Linked DNA regions of Homo sapiens: regions 1 and 2 are each linked to region 3. Evidence: fine-mapped expression QTL. A gene starts in region 3. Each other region holds a variant in brackets. All regions are shown on one strand. Distances are from middle to middle.

Region 1 (6,456 bases), 48 kb after region 3:
GTGCTCAACTGCGTTGCTTTAAATAATTTTGTGGTGCTTCTTTTTAGCATTTGATGAATACAGAAATATCAGCCAAAAGGACATTGTGGACAGCATAAAAGGAGAATTATCTGGGCATTTTGAAGACTTACTGTTGGCCATAGGTAAGACTTCGAGTGCTGGTAAACTAAGTTACTTTGCACTTGCTTTAACTCAGTGCCGAGGCCTGCTCCTTTTGGGCAAGAATCCTGACTGATCCATTTTTTTTGCTCCCTACAGCCCCCAACATGGTCCAGGATACACACAGTACGCTCAACAAATATTGTTAAATGAATGCTTGAAGAAGTTATTTTTTTAAGTCTTTTTTCTTTTTCTTTTTTGAAACAGGATCTCACTCTGTCACCCAGGCTGGAGTGCAGTGGTGTGATCTCAGCTCACTGCAGCCTCAACCTCCTGGGCTCAAGCAGTCCTCCCACCTCAGCCTCCCAAGTAGCTGAGACAACAAGCATGTATACCACCTGGCCCAGCTAATTTTGTATTTTTTGTAGAGATGGGGTTTCACCATGTTGCCCAGGCTGGTCGTGAACTCCTGAGCTCAAGCAATCCATCCACCTCAGCCTCCCAAAGTGTTGGGATTACAGGTGTGAGCTACCACATCCAGCCATCTTTTTAAATCTTACCTTGCTTTTTAAATTTGTATTTGTCTTGTGACCATGTTTAGCTTGTAGACTTCTTGAGAGCTGAAATATTTTATTTCTACTGGCATTTTTATTGAGCTTTGTTGAAAACTGAGACGTAGGCAAAGCACAGTGGCATGCACGTGTAGTCTTACCTACTTGGGAGGCTGAGGTGGAAGGATTGCTGGAGCCAAGGAGTTCAAGGCCAGTTTGGGCAACATAGCAAGATCTTGTCTCTTTAATTAAAAAAACCACACACACACACACACACACACACACATGCAACTAAGACCTAAGCCAGTTTGGTAATCCACCATATTTGGTTATTTATGAAAGATATCAGTGGCTTTTCTTTTCTTTCTTTCTTTTTTTTTTTTCTTTTGAGATGGAGTCTCACTCTGTCACCCAGACTAGAGTGCAGTGGCACAATCTCAGCTCATTGTTGACTCTGAATTGCTAAAAGATAAGCCGAGGAGGCTAAGAAAGGGAAAACTTTCTTCTTCAATTAAAAAAGTAGAATTGAGATCAGTCTTCATAATTAGTTCTCAGACTGTTCCAGTGGTAATGATACACCTGGTTAATTTTTTTTTCCATTTTACATTGTTAATCTTTTTTTCTTTTTTTTTCTTTGTGACGGAGTCTCGCTCGGTTGCCCAAGCTGGAGTGTGGTGGCGCAATCTCAGGTCACTGCAACCTCCGCCTTCCAGGTTCAAGCAATTCTTGTGCCTCAGCCTCCTAAGTAGCTGGGATTACAGGCACACGCCACCACGCCTGGCTAACGTTTGTATTTTTAGTAGAGACAGGGTTTCACCATGTTGGCCGGGGTGGTCTCAAATTCCTGACCTCAAGTGATCCGCCCACCTCTGCCTCCCAAAGTGCTGGGATTACAGGCTTGAGCCACCACCCCTGGCCTATATTGTTAATCTTTATATTAATTCTGCTTGCTGTTTTTCATTTGGTGTTCTTGCTAAGCCGTAATGTTTGAAAAACTTTGTTGAGATGTACAAACTCTCATTCACTGAGCTAAGGAGCATTCTTGGAAATATATCATTGAATAATGTATTACATTTGGGCTATAATGCACATTATTTTATCATGTAAAAAAAGACCTTATAATTCAATTGAAGTTCAAAATATGTTACACTTTCATTTTGTTTCAGTCTACCATTGGAATAAACCAGTTTATAAAATTTTTTATTGAGATATAACTTACATACCATAAAGTTCACCCACTCAAAGTGTGCAATTCAATGCTTTTTAATGTAGTCACAAGGTTTTGCAACCATCACCACAATCTAAGTTTAGGACGTTTTAATCAGCCGCATAAGAAACCCTGTAACTATTGACAGTCACTTTCCAATCCTCCCCACCCCCTGGCTCCTATAATCATTAATCTACTTTCTGTCTCTATAGATTTGCCTACTCTGCATATTTCATACACAAGGAATCCAATACAATGGTCAACACATAGTTTTTGACATGAAAAACGATCTGAGCTGTGTCATCTTAGAATCGTGTAATAGGAGCATACTACTTGCCAAATAAGAACAAATCCAGACTTAAGTAAGGAGAGGCTTTATTCAGTAGAACTATTTCAATAGAGAGAACATGTTGATTTCAGAAACCTGAAAGACTGGGCTGGGTGTGGTGGCTCATGCACATAATCCCATCACTTTGAGAGGCTGAGGCAGGAGGATCCCTTTAGGCCAGGAGTTCAAGACCAGCCTGGGCAACATAGTGAGAGCAGCATTCTGAGACTGTTCCAATGGCAATGATAGAACTGGTTAATTTTTTTTCCATTTTATATTGTTAATCTATATATTAAAGATTCTACAAAAAAATAAAAAATTAGCTGGGTAGGTTGGTGGACGCCTGTAGTCCCAGCTACTCAAGGGGCTAAGGTGGGAGGAGTGCTTGAACCCAGGAGGTCGAGGCTCCAGTGAGCTATGTTGGTGCCACTACACCAGAGCCTGAGTGACAAAAGTGAGATCCCATCTCTAAAAGATGGGGAAAAATGTGCAAAAGTTTCAAAATCCAACAGAAAAGTCTTAGCAGCAACTTTTAATGTTGGGCAAGCACAAGGGCATGATCACTGGGGATTGACAGGAAACACGTCTGGCAGTGGACAGCTGGACTCTCAAGATAAGCTGCAACAGAGGCATGTTCTGCATTTTAGGGCTTGCCCAGGACTGGGGACAAGCCAGAGTTCAGGAACCTGTGGGAGGAGAGAGGCCTGATGGAAGTGTGGTCAAGACAATGAAGAGGGTAGGGAATGGGCAATTATGAATTCTTGGTCATGGTAATTAACTCTAACGGACTCCCAAGCTTCCCTGCCTATGGTGCTGG[G/A]TGATAAAGCCTCCTTCCCACTGAAACATACTGCCACCTTCCAAAACTTTCAGATATGAAGAACAAATCTAGTAGGTAAGAATATAAAGCAGAAGGCAAGCTAAAGGGAAGAAAGGATCATGAAAAGAAGGGATTGTACAAATCTAGTTGGCAGGGAGGTGACTGGAAAGCTTAATAGGATGAAAGTGGGCATCATTATTTTTTATCAAGCTATTATGGCTTACTTAATGTGAGTTTTACTAGTTTAAATGGTTAGTTTCTTGTCAGAGAACTTCATGTAACAGTTTGATTCTAAATGCTGTGTTTGGGTTTCTAATACATTTCTCCTTCTATTTCCCTTAAATCACTCAAAAAGCCAAAAGTCTTTTAGCTTTCCTTAAGACAGTCTATAAGCCACGATGAGAAAGTCACTTATTCTTGTTCTGAGCTCCAAAATTCATTATAAAATCCATTCACTTTTGGTTGGATTCCTACCTAGAGATCAGATTTAAGATTATAAAAATAATTGTGTTGCTGTAAATAGGTTTCTTCCCTACAGACTTTTCTATTCCTATTTTCTTTTTATTTAAAAGATAATTTACTCTTGCGTTTTTGTCAGTTTCCTTTTTCTTGTTTTATTTCTGCTTTACTTGTTATTTCAAAATAAAGAATTGAAGGATTGTATTTTTTTTTTAAGGCAACTGAATTTAGATGACAGATACTTGTTCTAATGGAGTCACTCTAACCAGCCTATAAATTCTAATCCAGTCATTTAAAAGAAAATTCTTTCCATGGGAAAAATTGCTTTTAAATGGAACTCCAGTGCCCCTGCGTGCCTAATGAGTTATTTGGAGCAACATCGCTGCAGTTGTCAGGCCCAGGTTGTTCATCAGTAGCCCGAGATGCTAGTAGCTGAGCAGTGTCGCACCCTAGGGAGTTATCAGGGAAAGCGTAGGTGTTCGGGGTGTCTGGGATCCAGAGATGAGTCAGTCGCTGTGGGAGTTTCTTTGGCAGGTAATTTTATTTTCCCCATGGCTGGAGATAATTACTGTGCTAAAGTTCTGTGCAAATATGGTATTAAAAGGCTATGAAAATCAGGGTAAGCAGCCTTTCTTTCATTCCAAGTAAAAGCCAGTTGTGGGGAGGGGATAGAGTGGTATGACAGTCCAAAGAATCTTTTTAAAAAACATATTACTTACTATAGATTAACCCAATTTCTATTCCGTGAAGCTGAACATTATTTGCTTTTTGTTACAGTTAATTGTGTGAGGAACACGCCGGCCTTTTTAGCCGAAAGACTGCATCGAGCCTTGAAGGTTGGTCTGGAAAGTTCATGTGCATTCTTAGCGTCCCTTAATTCCCTTGGGAAAGTATGCAAATAGTAGAACAAATATTTAAAAATTAGTTATTTTAATGTAATTTAAACATTTTAAGATAAATTATATTACAGCAAATCAAGGTATGATACAATACACTCTTTACACAGACACCTGATTTTCTCTTCAAAATAAACAGACCTGGGTTTATGAAATAATTTTTTTCTAAGTAGGTATAATTTGATTTCTATTTAACTAAAACATTCTCATTTTCTCTAATATGATGAGTTTAAGTAGATGCTAATATTCCACTTGTATGAAAGATGAAAATTCATGTATAATATTAAATTTTAAAAGTTCATCCTCTATTTTAAATAGAAAATGAGAAGGCAGGCCAGGCGCGGTGGCTCACGCCTGTAATCCCAGCATTTTAGGAGGCCCAGGCGGGTGGATCACAAGGTCAGGAGTTCAAGACCAGCCTGGCCAGACGGTGAAACCCTGTCTCTACTAAAAATACAAAAATTAGCCGGGCGTGGTAGCAGATGCACTGTAATCCCAGCTACTCGCGAGGCTGAGGCAGAGAATTGCTTGAACCCAGGAGGCAGAGGTTGCAGTGAGCCTAGATTGCGCCACTGCACTCCAGTCTGGGCGACAGAGTGAGACTCTGTCTCAAAAAAAAAAAAAAAAAAAGAAAATGAGAAGGTAAAAATATGGCTTAATGTTGATAGAATGTCATATTTCTTTTCCACTTAGATTAGTTTTCTACAGTAGCTAATTTGTCTACTGATTTGCCTCATAGGTTAATAGTATTCTAACCCATATAGAGATAGGTACAGAGAAGTATTGACCACATTATTTTCACTGCTTCACAGTAAGTGCAGGCAGTAAAACTTGTTTTAGAATGCCAAACCTCAAGCTTGAGACCCAGTAGATCCTGTGGCCTCTCAAACTGCCTTGCTTAAAATAAACCAAGCTGAGTTGGCAGCCTTTAATGATGCCGTAACCCTGTGTTTGCTTGTCTGTCTTTACTGCCAGATGGTGCGCTCCATGAGTACAGACTCCTGTTTATCCTCAGACCCTAGGGCCTTGTGCACAGAAGATGCTTACCTCCATCTCTTTACCAGCCATTTTCTGTGGTCCCACACGTACCTTCAAAGTCATATCCTAAGTGAACACATCCTTTCCTTCATCTCGCCCAGCCCCACATCTGCTCCCCTTCCCCTGTTCAGTCATCCCAGAGAATGGCCCCAACAGGAATTTGCCCAACTCTCTGAAGTCGTACCATTCCTCCCCAGACTTCTTGACTATGCCTCAGCCACCCCAGGCTTCTTTCCATTCCTCAACTGTGGCAAGTCTATTCTCACATCACAGTCTTTGCATCCATTCCTTCTCTGGAATGCTCATCCTCTAGATCTTTACCTAGCTGACTCCTTCTCATCTTTCAGGTTTCAGCTCTCCTCCTGAGAGAGGTCTCCCCTAACTGTACCAGGCCAATTGGTTCCCTTTCAGTCACTCTCCATGCCATTTCCAGCTTTCTTTTCTTCATATTTCTGATCACTATTTACTTAAGCAATAGTTAATTTGCTTTGCTGTCTGTCTCCATCTACTAGAACATAAGCTCCATGCAGACAGAGATATAATCTGTTCTGTTCACCGCCATTGGCACAGCACATGGAATAATGCCTGGCTATAGTCGACGCTCATAAGCATTTGCTGGATGAATTACATAGATGAATGGAATATCATTTAGTATGTTGGCCATCATTAGGTCAAAATCCACCTAACTGCTCAGCTAGAAATTTTACACTATCTCTCTTTTTCATTATCCTGTAGCGATACATCATTATGTTTTGTCAATCCATTTACATAAGCAACTCTCAAATCTTCCCATTTTCTCCATCCCTACTGCCTTTATTCTAAGGATGGCCATCATCATCTCTTAATTACTCAGTCTCCTCAAGATGAGTCTCAAAGCCTCTAGTCTTAACTCCCTTATCTTCCTTCTACTCCTACCTTGCAATCTGTTTCTCATGCTGCAGTCAAAGTGATTTTCTGAAACCACGAATTTGATCTGATCTCAACATTCTCATGTTTAAAATATTACAAGAGCTCTCCACACTTAGGATAAAGTCAGAATTTCATTTCATGGTTAACAAGGT
Region 2 (6,456 bases), 68 kb after region 3:
TAGAGATAAGAACAAGATCCCCGTATTTGATAATATTGGAAAATAATGTATCAAATAGTACATGAGTTAAGTGAGCTGTTAATCCTTTTCTGTTTCTTTCTTTTTTTAAAAAATAGCAACAAGGTCTCACTGTGTTGCCCAGGCTGGTCTCGAACTCCTCGGCCTCCCCAAGTGCTAAGATTACAAGTGTGAGCCACCACACCCAGCCGAGTGGGCTACTAATCCTCAGTGAAGAGGCCATCACTGGGCACTGAATATCAGAGTCCATCCTTATTTTTTGTGTGTGTTCCTCTTGTTTCTGAAGTATCTAATGGAAAGTCTGGCTTCTCTGTTTCTCTCTTTCTCTGATTTCAGAAATCTTATTACGGTATCCTATCTATTGAAGATAACTAGAGATCAGTTTAAGTCTTCTCCATGCTGGAGCTTACAGAATAGATGCTAATTCTATTGCCTGCTTTCCCAGATACTGACAGGTAATAAGAGGGCCAAGTAGACCACCCTGCCATGGATTGGAGCCATGTAAGACCCATCCTGTGTACACTCAGAGCTGACTCTTTCCTAGGAAGTGAGTGGTATGGATAGACATGCGTCTTTTCCAATTCTTCCTGTGCCTCACCTCAGTCTTCAGGACTCCAAGGAGGTAGGACCAAAAAGCACAGGGCCCCTGAGTGTTATTTCAGATCCTCTGTGTAACCAGCCCACACCTGAGCCTTCTGTCAATGGAAAACTCCATTAGGCAGCAATGACTGGAGAATGTCTCCAATTTATTCAAACATGTTTCTAGAGAGAAGACGGTGGTGGGGAGAAAAGCACTTCCTTCCTCTCTCTACCTCCTGTCTCTTCCTAACCTCCTCTGCTTTAATTTCTGGCTAACCTCAGCACTGTTGACATGAAAAAGAAGCCTTTGCACTGTTAAGTCTACTTTGAATTATTTCAATATGGGGACCTTCCCTGGCCACCAGGCAACAAACTGTCCATTCTTGATTTTCTCCTCTCTCTCTCTTCTGGGTATTGAATATGTAGTTTGGCTGGACCAGGTGCTGCCAAAAACTTCTTGGGAGGCCCACGGCTTCCCAGAATCTAGAATCCACCCAGAGAAAGTCCCTGTGAGGAAACTTCACAGATCTTTCTCTGGTTACGTCTCTGGGAACACTGCACTTGCCCGGCTTTTCCTGCACTGCTTTTCTTGGCTTCCTCAGTGTGATGGTCCTGTCTTCTTTCTTCAGGAAAAACAGGCCCCCTGGCCTTCCCTTTCCTAGATGTGAAGGAAAGATGCCAGAGCCATACAATGTTGGTTTCAGTACCACCAACTTGCCGTGTAACTTTCGGCAAATTACTTAGCCTCGCTGATCCATCATTTCCTTTTGTTTCTAAGATAGGAGTAATAATTTATCAATTCATAGTGCCAGGAAGACCCAGGTGCCAGGAAGGATGGAATGCTTAGATCTGTCATGGAAGATACAAGGAATTAGATGAGGAAACACAAGTAAAGGAATTAGCACAATATCTGAAATATGTAGTCATTGGCTATTATTTACATCTTTCCCCAATTTCCCAGTCTCTTTTGCTGTTATCAAGTATATGCATAAGGTCTTTTTTATTTTGAAAGACTTAGTCATTATGGGAAAATTGACAAAGGACTGCAAATTCTGTATAATCATGTGGAACTTTCACAACTTAACCAACTGCACCACATTCTTGACCTCTCTGTGCAGGCAGAGAGAATTCAGCTCCCTTTGGACTGTGGCTTTATAACCTCACATGCTCTTCTCAGCCAACCGACCTGAAGAGCCAGTAGGCATTGACTTGCATTCTTTCAGAGGTCCTCTTGTTTCAATAATAATAAGCACCATTTCTTAACACTCACTATGAGCAATTCATATATTTTGTCTCATTTTGACTTTATAACAACACCATGAGGCAGGTAACCTTATCTCAATTTACTAGTCTGGAAAGAGGCTCAGAAACGTTAAGACCACTCTAGATATAGTTCTGGAGCCACAAAACAAACTGAGATTTCTATACAGTAGATCCAAAATCTATACGCTTGACTCTCTCACGCTGGGACCATGATACAGCAGTAGCAACAGTTACAAAGCTCTTTACTTTAGAGGCCCGTTTCTTGGGCTCTGGGGTTGGGAGGTAGGTCTGAACACTTGGGTGTCTCATAAATTCTCTGACTTCACACACTGAGCAACTTCACCACACATCACTGGCATCTAACGGTCAGTAATACTGAAGTCTAAATAAGTCTCTCAGAAGCTTACATATCAATAATATAAAGTCATCTAGTACAGGACAGAAGCCACCTTGATAGAGCCAAGTCAGTATCTTTCAATCTGACAAGACTGGTCAGGAGGCTCTCAGACCAGAAGGTAATATCTTCACTTGCTGAGCACTGTACTATCCGAAGTTCAAAACTATAGACTGTGCCACAGCGGGGCACATGTGCAAGGGCAGAGTTGGAGCCCTGAATAAACAGTTCACCATTACTTACAGAATTTCCCTGGTTCCATGTTTCCCCCTTTCTTTTTTGGGGGGAAGGATGTGAATTTTTCTTCTTTTTCTCCAGCAGTAGCAGTACTGAAACCATTCAGCAACGAGGATTTGGCAGCTTCTAAGGGTCATGTCGTTGGTGGGTGCAGTTTGAGTTGAAGTGATTGCAGACGTGCAGACAAACACACAGAAATAGAGGTTCAGTAGGGCCTGGGCCTAAGCCCTGGGGAAAGCTACAGTTACTTCAGTGGAAGGGGAGTAGGAGCCAACAGAGCAAATGGAAGGAAGAGCAGGAAGATGATGCCGCACTCCGGAGGAGAAGCAGCAGAGTTGCTCTCTGTACCTGCAAGCCAATGGAGAAGTTTATCATAAGACAGTAATGAACTAATAACACACCGCTGAC[C/G]GGTGACACACAGCAATAGTGGCAACTGTTGAAGAACTACTGTGTGCTCAGCGTCACGCTACATGCTTTAGAGAAGCCCTTAGGGCACAGTGGAGTTAGAAGTACGTTATTTATTAGGAATGACTGTACATAGGATAAAAAAAAAAGAAATAGGTCATTTATCCTAACTCTTACAGCAACTAGCTTTGAGAAAGTGAGCAGCTTATTCAATCTCTCTGAGTATTAATTTCATCTGAGAAATTGGAGTAATAATATCCATATTACTCATTTAGCCTATCAATGTGAACTGAAAGCCTACTGTGTACTAAACACTACTCTAAAAGCTGCATATACATGTAAAAATTTACTACCTGTTCGGCTGGGCGCGGTGGCTCAAGCCTGTAATCTCAGCACTTTGGGAGGCCGAGGCGGATGAATCACTTGAAGTCAAGAGTTCGTGACCAGCCTGACCAACATGGTGAAACCCAGTCTCTACTAAAAATACAAAAATTAGCCGGGCATGGTGGCGCACACTAGTAATCCCAGCTACTCAAGAGGCTGAGGCAGGAGAATTGCTTGAACCTGGGAGGCAGAGGTTGCAGTGAGCCTAGATAATGCCACTGCACTCTAGCCTGGGTGACAGAGCGAGACTCCATCTCAAAAAAAAGAAAAAAAAATTCAGTGCCTGTTTTCATGGAACTTACAGTCTATAATAAAGATAAGAATGATCAATTATATTAAATGCCTGGGATTTGGCACTTATTTCATTTAATCCTCACAGCAATCCTATGTTTAGTGTGCTCTTTTCACGTCAACATTATCTGCTGTTGTTAAATGTTAAATGAAAATAAGTCAAGGCAGATCTGAGAAAACTATTGAGTACTAGGTTCGTCTTAACTGTGAAAGTGGCCATTGTTAGTTGATGGTTATGTATAATTAGTTAGTTTGAGAATGTGGGGTATATATTTCATATTCAAAAGCGAACTCCTGCCTCTGTCAGTCAATATTTGTGGTCCACCATCATTCTTAGCATCTAGTCCAACGCCTGGCACATATTAGATTATCAATACATAATTGTTAAATTAAATTGAGTACTTATTATATGCCAGACATCACTTATTCTGCAAATTGCATTTTATCTGATCTTTGTTCTTAGAAATTATATAAGGGCCTCTGGGAGAAACAGTAAGATTCTGGCCTACTAAGCTTTAGTGTGCTGTGTCAATAGTAATTGAATCAGGGAACAGGGTCAAAACCAGTCTTAGATGAAGAGTTTTTTCCCTTCTCTGACATAACCCCTCTATTTCTACTCTGAACCCATCTCTTATTACCCAGGACATTGCTAATAATGATGGGTGGTCCCAAGGTTCTGCCCTTGCATTTCTGCTCCACTAGAAAATACTTGGATTTTTGAGACTTTAAATAACAGTTCCAGAACTTACTAGCTTGGTAATTTTTGTGAAGTTGCTTACTCTTAATTTCTCAGTTTCTTCTTCTATAAAATTGAGATAATGCCAACTTCTATGGTCAAGAAGATTAAATTAAAATGATACATCCAAGAATACCTAAGACAATGAATAAAAGGATAGGAAGCTAGAAACAGGGATAGTTACATTTACAGTAAAGCTAGTTAGATAGGAAACATAGAAGGTTCTTGGTGCTCCATAGATGTCCCTGACACTCAGCATTTCCTACGTTCTGACTCTCCTTACTGCAAGTGCCGGTGACCCTGCTGCAGCCTTTATCTGTCTGTGGGAGCTGACCACACTTGGGTCAGAACAGAAGTGTCAGGGAGTAACACCCCTGGGGTGGCTCTCAACCAGTGACAGATGGAGGCCATGGATAAATACCACAGGCTCTTGCCTCCCAAGTGAGACAACTCTGAGGCATGATCTATGCTGCCCCTGAGACCCCCAGGAAGTCTGAGCCCCAGCTGCCCGCAGTGACAACTGACTCACAACACACCCTGTACCGGCTTTCTTTCTTTTTCTGTCTCACTTCTGCACTCACTTCCCAGTGCTTCCTGGGATCCCTGGATCCTTTTCTCAGCATCTGTTTCTGGAGGGACACATCCCAAAATAGGAAGGACTATTTTCAGTAGTCACTATAAAGTAGGAGGTGTAACTGTGTGTAACTTTGTGGGGTTACAGGGTGGAGGAGTTGAGAGAAGAAAACGGAGGCTTTTAGGGTAGAAATCCTCTAGAACAGTGATTCTCTGTGTTGGCGTGCTAGGGAGTCACCAAGTGTTTTGGAAGTGAAATGGAGAGGTAGGAGGAGCACTGGGGTGGCTCAAGTTAGATGGCTCTGGGAAGGAAATGAGCCACAGCTTCAAAGTTCCACCTCTTTCTTCAAAGCACAGTTACCTGGAAACACAAACGAAAACGAATGAGAGGAAGATGAAGAATAGGAGCAATAAGAAGAGGAGGAGGAAATCCCATCTAATTTTATCTACCACATTGCCACCTTATTACTACTTTACATTTATTTCCATGGGTTCTTTGGAAGTGAAGTCCAGAATTTAGGGGCACACAGGGAGTCTATGATTCTAGTAAGCAAGGCAGGAAGCAGTGAAGGCAAATAGAATTAGTGAATGAAATGGGATAGATCATGTGACGCAGGAGAGGTTCCAGGGAAGCTAGAGATGGGCTTCCTGGGTGGGGTGAAGGAGATGACAGGCTGTGGCTGCAAATGGGATAATAGATCTCAGAAACAGAGATTACCCTGAGTGTTAACGACACTGACTAAGGCAGGTCAAAGGTGGAGGTCTTCAACCCAGGAAATACCTCTGGGGTAAAGGAATCTAAAAGGTTAATGTGGATTCCAGAGTCAATATAGATTATGGCAAAGGGCAGGGCAGAGGAGCAGGACTGAGTCCGCTGCTGAAGTAAGCTTGGGAAGTGAGGATGGAATCTGGTGAGTCACAGCATTGAGAACTGCACAGTCTTCAACTGGGCAGAGGGTGAGAGTGGGTGAGGGTAGTTCAAGGGTGAGAAAGCACACTGGAGGGAGGAAAGAGCTGGCCGCTCCACCTCACCCGCTGACTTGAGCAGAGAAGATAAGGCTATCATGCTGAAAACAGTTGGGAGAACAGTGATTTCACAGGAGAGCATCTTTCAGGCCAGACGGCAGAAGAAAGAGGATCCATGTGAATGGGGACTGTGATGGTTAATTTTCTGTGTCAAATTGGCTAGACCACAGTATTTGTTTAAATATTATTCTAATTGTGTCTGTGAGAATATTTTTTAAATGAGATTGCCATTTAAATCAGTAGACTTTGAGTAAAGCAGATTATCTTCCATAATGTGGGTGGCTCTCATCTGATCAGCTGGAGGCCTTAACAGATAAAGACTCCCTCTCCTTCCCATTAGGCAGAGAGAATTTTGCCAGCAGACTGCCTTTAGACTTGACCAGCAATACCAACTCTTCCCTGGGGCTCCAGGTGACCAGCTCACTCTGAAGATTTTGGACTTGCCTGCCTGTACAATAACGTGAGCCAATTCCTAAAATAAATCTCTGTCTCTCTCTCTTGCTATATATATATGTGTGTGCGTGTGTGTATTTCTCTCTATATATATAAT
Region 3 (6,456 bases):
GGAAGGCCGCAGGGTCCTCTGCCTAGGAAAACCAGAGACCTTTGTTCACTTGTTTATCTGCTGACCTTCCCTCCACTATTGTCCTGTGACCCTGCCAAATCCCCCTCTGCGAGAAACACCCAAGAATGATCAATTAAAAAATAAATAAATAAATAAATAAATAAATAAATAAATAATAAAAAAAATAATAATAAAATGTGAAATAATTAGGAAGTGGTTAATTTTGAGTACCTATTACCTTTGCTTTTAACGTAATTTATTCAATTGTATTTATTTAACTTGTAATAATGTCTACATTAATACTGGCTGTGAAATAACTGAAAATTCAGGAACTGGCTTTCACATGCTGGTATAACCCAGCTCCAACACATCACTGTAACAGCAGCTATGTATTCAACAGCCACAATCACGTAGTCGGTCTTTCCTTCACATTTTACCATATGTTCTAAATATATCTCAATAACTTTGCTTTAAAAATTTGTATTTGGCTGTTAAATTGTTCTTTTGATCAGGATGCTATAGGAAAATTCCCTTTTTACTAACCTGTAAAGTTCTGTGTATTCAGAATAATGAAACTTTTATTAAATAACCTTTTCTGAATTCTTTTTCTGGATAACCATAAACCTGGATTCTAACAGCATCCTCTAATATTTCCTTCCAAGAAAACTCATCCTTTGGGGAAAAAATAGTTTTATAATATGCCATAGCATGTTTCTAATATAAATGGTGGTAATTGGGCTGTTGATACAACTAGAAAAACTCAAAAAATGATAAAAGTGCATTTGTTAAAGTTACCATCAGGAAATCAAAGAAGTTAAATCCTGAATGGTTTAAACAATTAAAATAAAGCCTACATGTAAAACATCACCTGTTACTCATTTTCTTCTGGCTATAAATCTAGCCCTATGACTTCCTAGTTGCCTGGAATACAACTCGTAGAACTTACTGAGTCCCTCTGAGCCTGTGTCTGTATCTGCAAAATAGAGGCAATCATACCTAATTTACAGCTAGTTGGTAAGCATGACATAGATCACGTACGTCAAGTGCATTACCCAGTGTCTGGCACAAATAATAATAAATATTTTCCCCCATTTCATGCTAATCTCAGAATTTTTTGAGGTAACATGGGATTTAACAGTTTATTGTGGTGAAGTCTGAATGGGAGTCAGGAATTACTATGCAGAACAGAATGCAGAACACCATCCTATCTTCTCTCTTGCAGAAAGCCCATCACTTCGGATTTGTAGATCTGAGAGGGCTCCCAGGGCACTGGCCTTTTAAGCATGACCACTTCTGCCTTCTCCGTTGTAGCTCCTCTTAAACCAGTGGTTCTCAAACTTTAGGATGCATCAGAATCACTTGATGGCGCAGGGTTTCAGGGAATTTGCATTTCTAATGAGTTTCTAGGTCCCAGGACTCAGCCTTAAGGACCAAGACTGTAATCTCTTCAACTCACACTCAAGCAGCTCCAGCCATGCTTATCCTCTAAAAATCCTCTGTGCTCCACCTGTTCACCCTACCTCCTCTCAACTCCTAGAAACCAGTGATTTTTTTTACTGTCTCCGTAGTGTTGCCTTTTCTGGAATGTCATATAGTTGGAATCATAGTGTGTAGCATTTTCAAATGGGCTTCTTTCTCTTAATAATATGCATTTAAGTTTCTTCCATGTGTTTTTATAGCTTGATAGCTAATTTCTTTTCAGTGCTGAATAAAATTCTATTGTATAGATGTATCACAGTTTATTTATCCATTCACCTACGAATTACATCTTGGTTGCTTCCGACTTTTGATACTTAGGAGTAAAGCTACTATAAACATCCATGTGCAGGTGTTTGTGGAGGTAAGTTTTCAAATCCTTCGGGTGAATACATAAGGGGCCCAGTGATGACTGAGTGCAAGCAATACTTTTTACTTACGTGGTCTCGGATAAATCACTTCACTTTTCTAAGCCTCAGTTTTCTCTTCTGCAAATTGTGATAAAAATAGCACCTCCTAGAGTTCCCTTGAAGATAAAAGAGGTAAGGTATTCAAGCACTTCAATGCCTGATACTCAATACATGGTAACTTTTTCTACATCCTTCAGCACACAACTGCTCATAATTCCCTCATACGAGTAGGGCTTTAACCTTTTAGCCTCGATGATTTGTTTTGCTCTTCCAAATGCCTAGAATGCCCTTCCAGGTTACCGTCTCCCTGAGCCTTTGGTTGGAATCCTCATACCAGAGGGTCAACACGTTTAGTAGAGGAATTACTGAAATAGTTGGGTTCCAAACACTAGCTCTGGCATTTACCTTCTGTGTAAATTGGCTGAAGTTACCCAACGTCTCTGTATCTCAATTTCCTCATCTATAAAATGGGGATAATAGTATCTACCTCATAGAGTTGTTGTCGGAGCCATTTTAATGGCAAAAACCGCAATTACTTTTGCACCAACCTAATAAATCCGCGCATATTCTTAAAGAAGTTAGAACAGTGCCTGGTACAAAGTAAATGCCAGATCAATGTTATTAATGTTAGGTGTCCGCCACCTATGCCACGCAGTGAGTTCCTTAGGTATAGGGACAGTCTAATCTCCGAATCCACACTGCCTAGAACAAAATAAGCATTGCAGTACATTTGAGAAAGTAAAGGTGTAGTGGAAACCGAGAGCGAAATGAGGGCGTAGGGAGAAAAGGGTGGGGAAGCTTAGAGACCGGTGAGGGAGCAGAGCTGGGGCGCCTGTGTACAGGGATAGAGCCCGGCGGCAGCAGGGCGCGGCTTCCCTTTCCCGGGGCCTGGGGCCGCAATCAGGTGGAGTCGAGAGGCCGGAGGAGGGGCAGGAGGAAGGGGTGCGGTCGCGATCCGGACCCGGAGCCAGCGCGGAGCACCTGCGCCCGCGGCTGACACCTTCGCTCGCAGTTTGTTCGCAGTTTACTCGCACACCAGTTTCCCCCACCGCGCTTTGGGTAAGTTCAGCCTCCCGGCGCGTCCCCGCGAGCCTCGCCCACAGCCGCCTGCTGACGGGTGGCTTGGGGAGGTCGCGGCGCCTCGCCCAGTTCCCCCGCGAGTGCAGCTCGACCCTGGGCAGGGCTGGCGGCTGGCGCCCGCGCCCGGCCCCAACCCAGCTGCGTGGGTGGGGAGCTGGAGGGACCTCAGTCCTGCATTTCAGAGTCGAGGAGACTGGGCCCACGGGGGGGAAAGTGCCGTGCCATGGGTGGGTCACCCAGGTCTTGGTGGGGCCCAAGCTGATACTCAGCTGTCCTCGCTCCCTGAAAGCTTCGCTTATTACAGCTAGCAGCGTAAGGGATCCACTTAGCCATCTCGGCCTCCCCAGTCCTAAAGGTCTAGGGGACAGAAAAAAGCTGGGAGTCGGAAGGTTCCTCGGGTCCCCGGCATGGCAGACGGGGCTGGCTCAGAGGTCTGCTCTGTGGACTTGGAATCGCACCCATCCTGTGAGCATCTTCTCCCCCTCACATAGGCAATTTATTTTATTTTACTTATTTTTTTTAGAAGGTAGAAAACAGTGGATTTGCATATTGAGGGTTGGAAGTTCAAGAAGTTTGCTTTTTCCTGAAAAGACTAACCGTTTTCTTTGCAACAGAATCCTATTGACTAGATATGAATCATTCCCTTGGTATTTGAGTCACCAGGTGGAAGATTTGGATACTTGATTGCAGATGACCATATATAGGAAAGTATGCAGGTGCTGGGAGGTTCTGGGTCGCTGGAGGCCCCTCTGGCTACTGATACGAAATTGCATAGCCCAGGCCGAATTCTTTCCAAGGATTTGTGTTCAGCACTGACAGCAAGACCCTGCCCTCCGGGAAAGATACATTTACTATGTTCACCAACATCATTTTTTAAAATGTAACTAATTAAAACGTTACTCCATGAAGATACCACCTTTGGTTTTCACGAAGACGGAAAACTTCAGACTGACCAGAAAGGGAATTTTTAAATGTAAAGAAAACCAGAATCTTGTTCCCAGAACTCTGTGGTTGTGTAGAGAAACCTGTTTAGAAATAACCGTAGAGGAGGAAGTAAAAGGAAATGATGTAATCCCTTTCAGGAAAGGATATATTGAAATTCTGTTTAAGTCATTTGGCCTTCGCTGTGGAGTAATTCTTTACATCTTAAAAGTTAAATGATAGATTAGTAATAATTCTTAATAATTTTCCAGTTCTGCTGGATCAATGCATATTAAGTGTCAGATTTGGTCAGGTGTGGGCCAGGCAGCAGATTAAGGCAGAAGCATGGGGGTTAGGTTCATACCTTTAGAGTCTAGCTGCCTAGATGCAGTAGGGGTCCACTCACTAGCTGTGTGACTGTGGGACATTACCATACCTCTCTGGGCTCCAGCTTCTTCATATGCAAAACGAAGATGTAATACCTAACTCACTGGATGATTGTGCGGCTTGTATTAAATCATTCATTTAATCAATAAGTTTTTTTTTTAAATATCTACCGTGCACCAGTGCACACAGATAAGAAGAATCTCCAGCCCTGTGAAACTGACCTCGTTCAATGCTGGCAACACCCCCTTCTTCACTTTTTACAGATGAGGAAATTGAGGCCCAAAGAAATTGTGTTTAGCTTTAAGAGGCAAAATGAGAACCAATAATGCCTTGTTTTCACTGTACAGATGGTTTGACTTCTGATTTTTAGACTTCAGAATAGTTTATCTGGCTGTAACCCCTCATAAGTCAAAGAGCATGTATTTAGAGAGATGCAGTATTAGACTCTAACTGGAGAGTTGACTGCCCTAGGCTACAGAGAGCCTGAAAAAACCAAGGTGAAATATTTCCAGAGACTAATAGTGTAATTTCCCATTGAACTTTTCTCTGGGGGTGTCAGGGAATTTTTAGAATATTTTGTTCCCAGGAAGGGTGGGAGCAACTTGCATTTCTAAATCAACCCTGGAGATATGCCAGCATGTTTGAATAATATCTATTTAAGAAAAATGTGTCTGGCTTCCCAATCAAAGAACTGTGCCTTTCACCTCTGCACCCCACCAAGGACTGGACCACCTCCTCAAAGAGCAGATGTGTCTTTATAACAGACTGTAGGCTTGGAGCCTTGTAAAATGTACATGGAGTTTCACAATCAAGCACAAGGAATCCAACTGAAGGCAGCTAAACTTTGTGTTGATTTGGTGAGGAGGAGTAAAATCCTGTGTTTTTGTTGTTATTGATCCCCGTAGTGGTAGCCTGTCAGTAATCAGCAGAGTTCTCCTGGACTTTAAATAAGTCAAAAATTGGCTTTTCAGGAAGTATATTTGTAAGCATCTTAAGTACAAAGATTTTTTTCTGTCTCTTGTCTTGAAGTCCTCACAGGTCTAGCACAGTCCCTTGCATATGGTAGATGCTCAGTAAATGTTTGTTTAGCAAATGGGATACCCAATGTCAGATATATGCTCTTCCTGAGAAGGTTTTTCTGTGAATGTTGACATCTGTTTTCTGGATTCAAGATTAAGGGTTGGACTAAGATTATTGTGTTCTGAATCACATATTGATACCATTTACTAATTGTTTTCTTTTAATAGATTAGTGTGATCTCAGCTCAAGGCAAAGGTGGGATATCATGGCATCTATCTGGGTAAGTAAAAATTAAGCCTTCACAACACAGTAACATATATGAGTCAAACCAAAACACAGAAGGTCAAGATAGCAAGGAAAATTTTAGGAAAGTTTTTAAGTTTATCTGGCAAAATTAACATGCTAGAAAAGCCAGAGGATGTCAAAAATAATAAAATATTTTTAAAAATGCATTGTAAAGTTACATAGTTAAAATAACTTATGATGACACCAAGGCGGAAAGGTCAAAATCAGATAATAAATTTAGTATATAATTTGGGAATTTATTATATGAAAAAGATGACATATCAGAGAAGAAGAGACGGATTATTCAATAAATGTTAGGAAAACTTCTAGCTGTTTGGGGAAAAAGTAAATCTGTATTCCTTTTTCTCCTTACAATAAAATAACTTCCATGTGGATAAAATACAGAAATGAAGAAGATGAAATATGAATGGGCCGGGTGTGGTGGCTCACACCTGTAATCCTAGCACTTTGGGAGGCCGAGGTGGGTGGATCACCTAAAGCCAGGAGTTTGAGACCAGCCTGGCCAACATGGTGAAACCGTGTCTCTACTAGAAATACAAAAATAGCCCGGTGCGATGGCAGATGCCTGTAATCCCAGCTACTCAGGAGGCTGAGGCAGGAGAATCGCCTGAACCTGGGAGGCAGAGGTTGCAGTGAGCTGAGATCATGCCACTGCACTCCAGCCTGAGAGACAGAGTGAGACTCCGTCTCAAAAAAATAGAAAAAGAGAAAGAAATATGAATGGATTGAAGAATATTCTTGGAGTGGGGAAGATGCTTACAACTGTGACACAAAACCAAACGCCTAAAAGAAAAATATTGATCTATTTTAACTACATACAAGTTTATCACTATGACAGCCAACAATCCCATTGGTA

Evidence for each region. PIP is the estimated chance that this variant, and not a neighbour inherited with it, causes the effect.
Region 1: its variant is fine-mapped to the expression of ANXA3 in blood mononuclear cells (TOPMed, PIP above 0.99). The same link has a PIP of 0.9 or more in whole blood.
Region 2: its variant is fine-mapped to the expression of ANXA3 in tibial nerve (GTEx, PIP 0.95).

Annotation. Positions count from the first base shown.
Region 1 is chr4:78,597,272-78,603,727 of GRCh38, forward strand. It overlaps ANXA3 (annexin A3), which reads left to right. Exons shown (of 13, transcript NM_005139.3): 10 at 48-143; 11 at 4,239-4,297. Among named protein-coding and RNA genes, the nearest start is that of LINC01094, 45 kb to the right of the region's middle. The variant G/A (reference allele first, on the strand shown) is at 3,003.
Region 2 is chr4:78,616,928-78,623,383 of GRCh38, forward strand. LOC124900721 (a long non-coding RNA gene) reads left to right here. Exons shown (of 2, transcript XR_007058152.1): 1 at 1-640; 2 at 6,247-6,414. Among named protein-coding and RNA genes, the nearest start is that of LINC01094, 26 kb to the right of the region's middle. The variant C/G (reference allele first, on the strand shown) is at 2,900.
Region 3 is chr4:78,548,915-78,555,370 of GRCh38, forward strand. ANXA3 (annexin A3) reads left to right here and starts at 2,856. Exons shown (of 13, transcript NM_005139.3): 1 at 2,856-2,945; 2 at 5,522-5,574. The coding sequence starts at 5,560. RefSeq lists enhancers at 3,221-3,972, 3,276-4,475.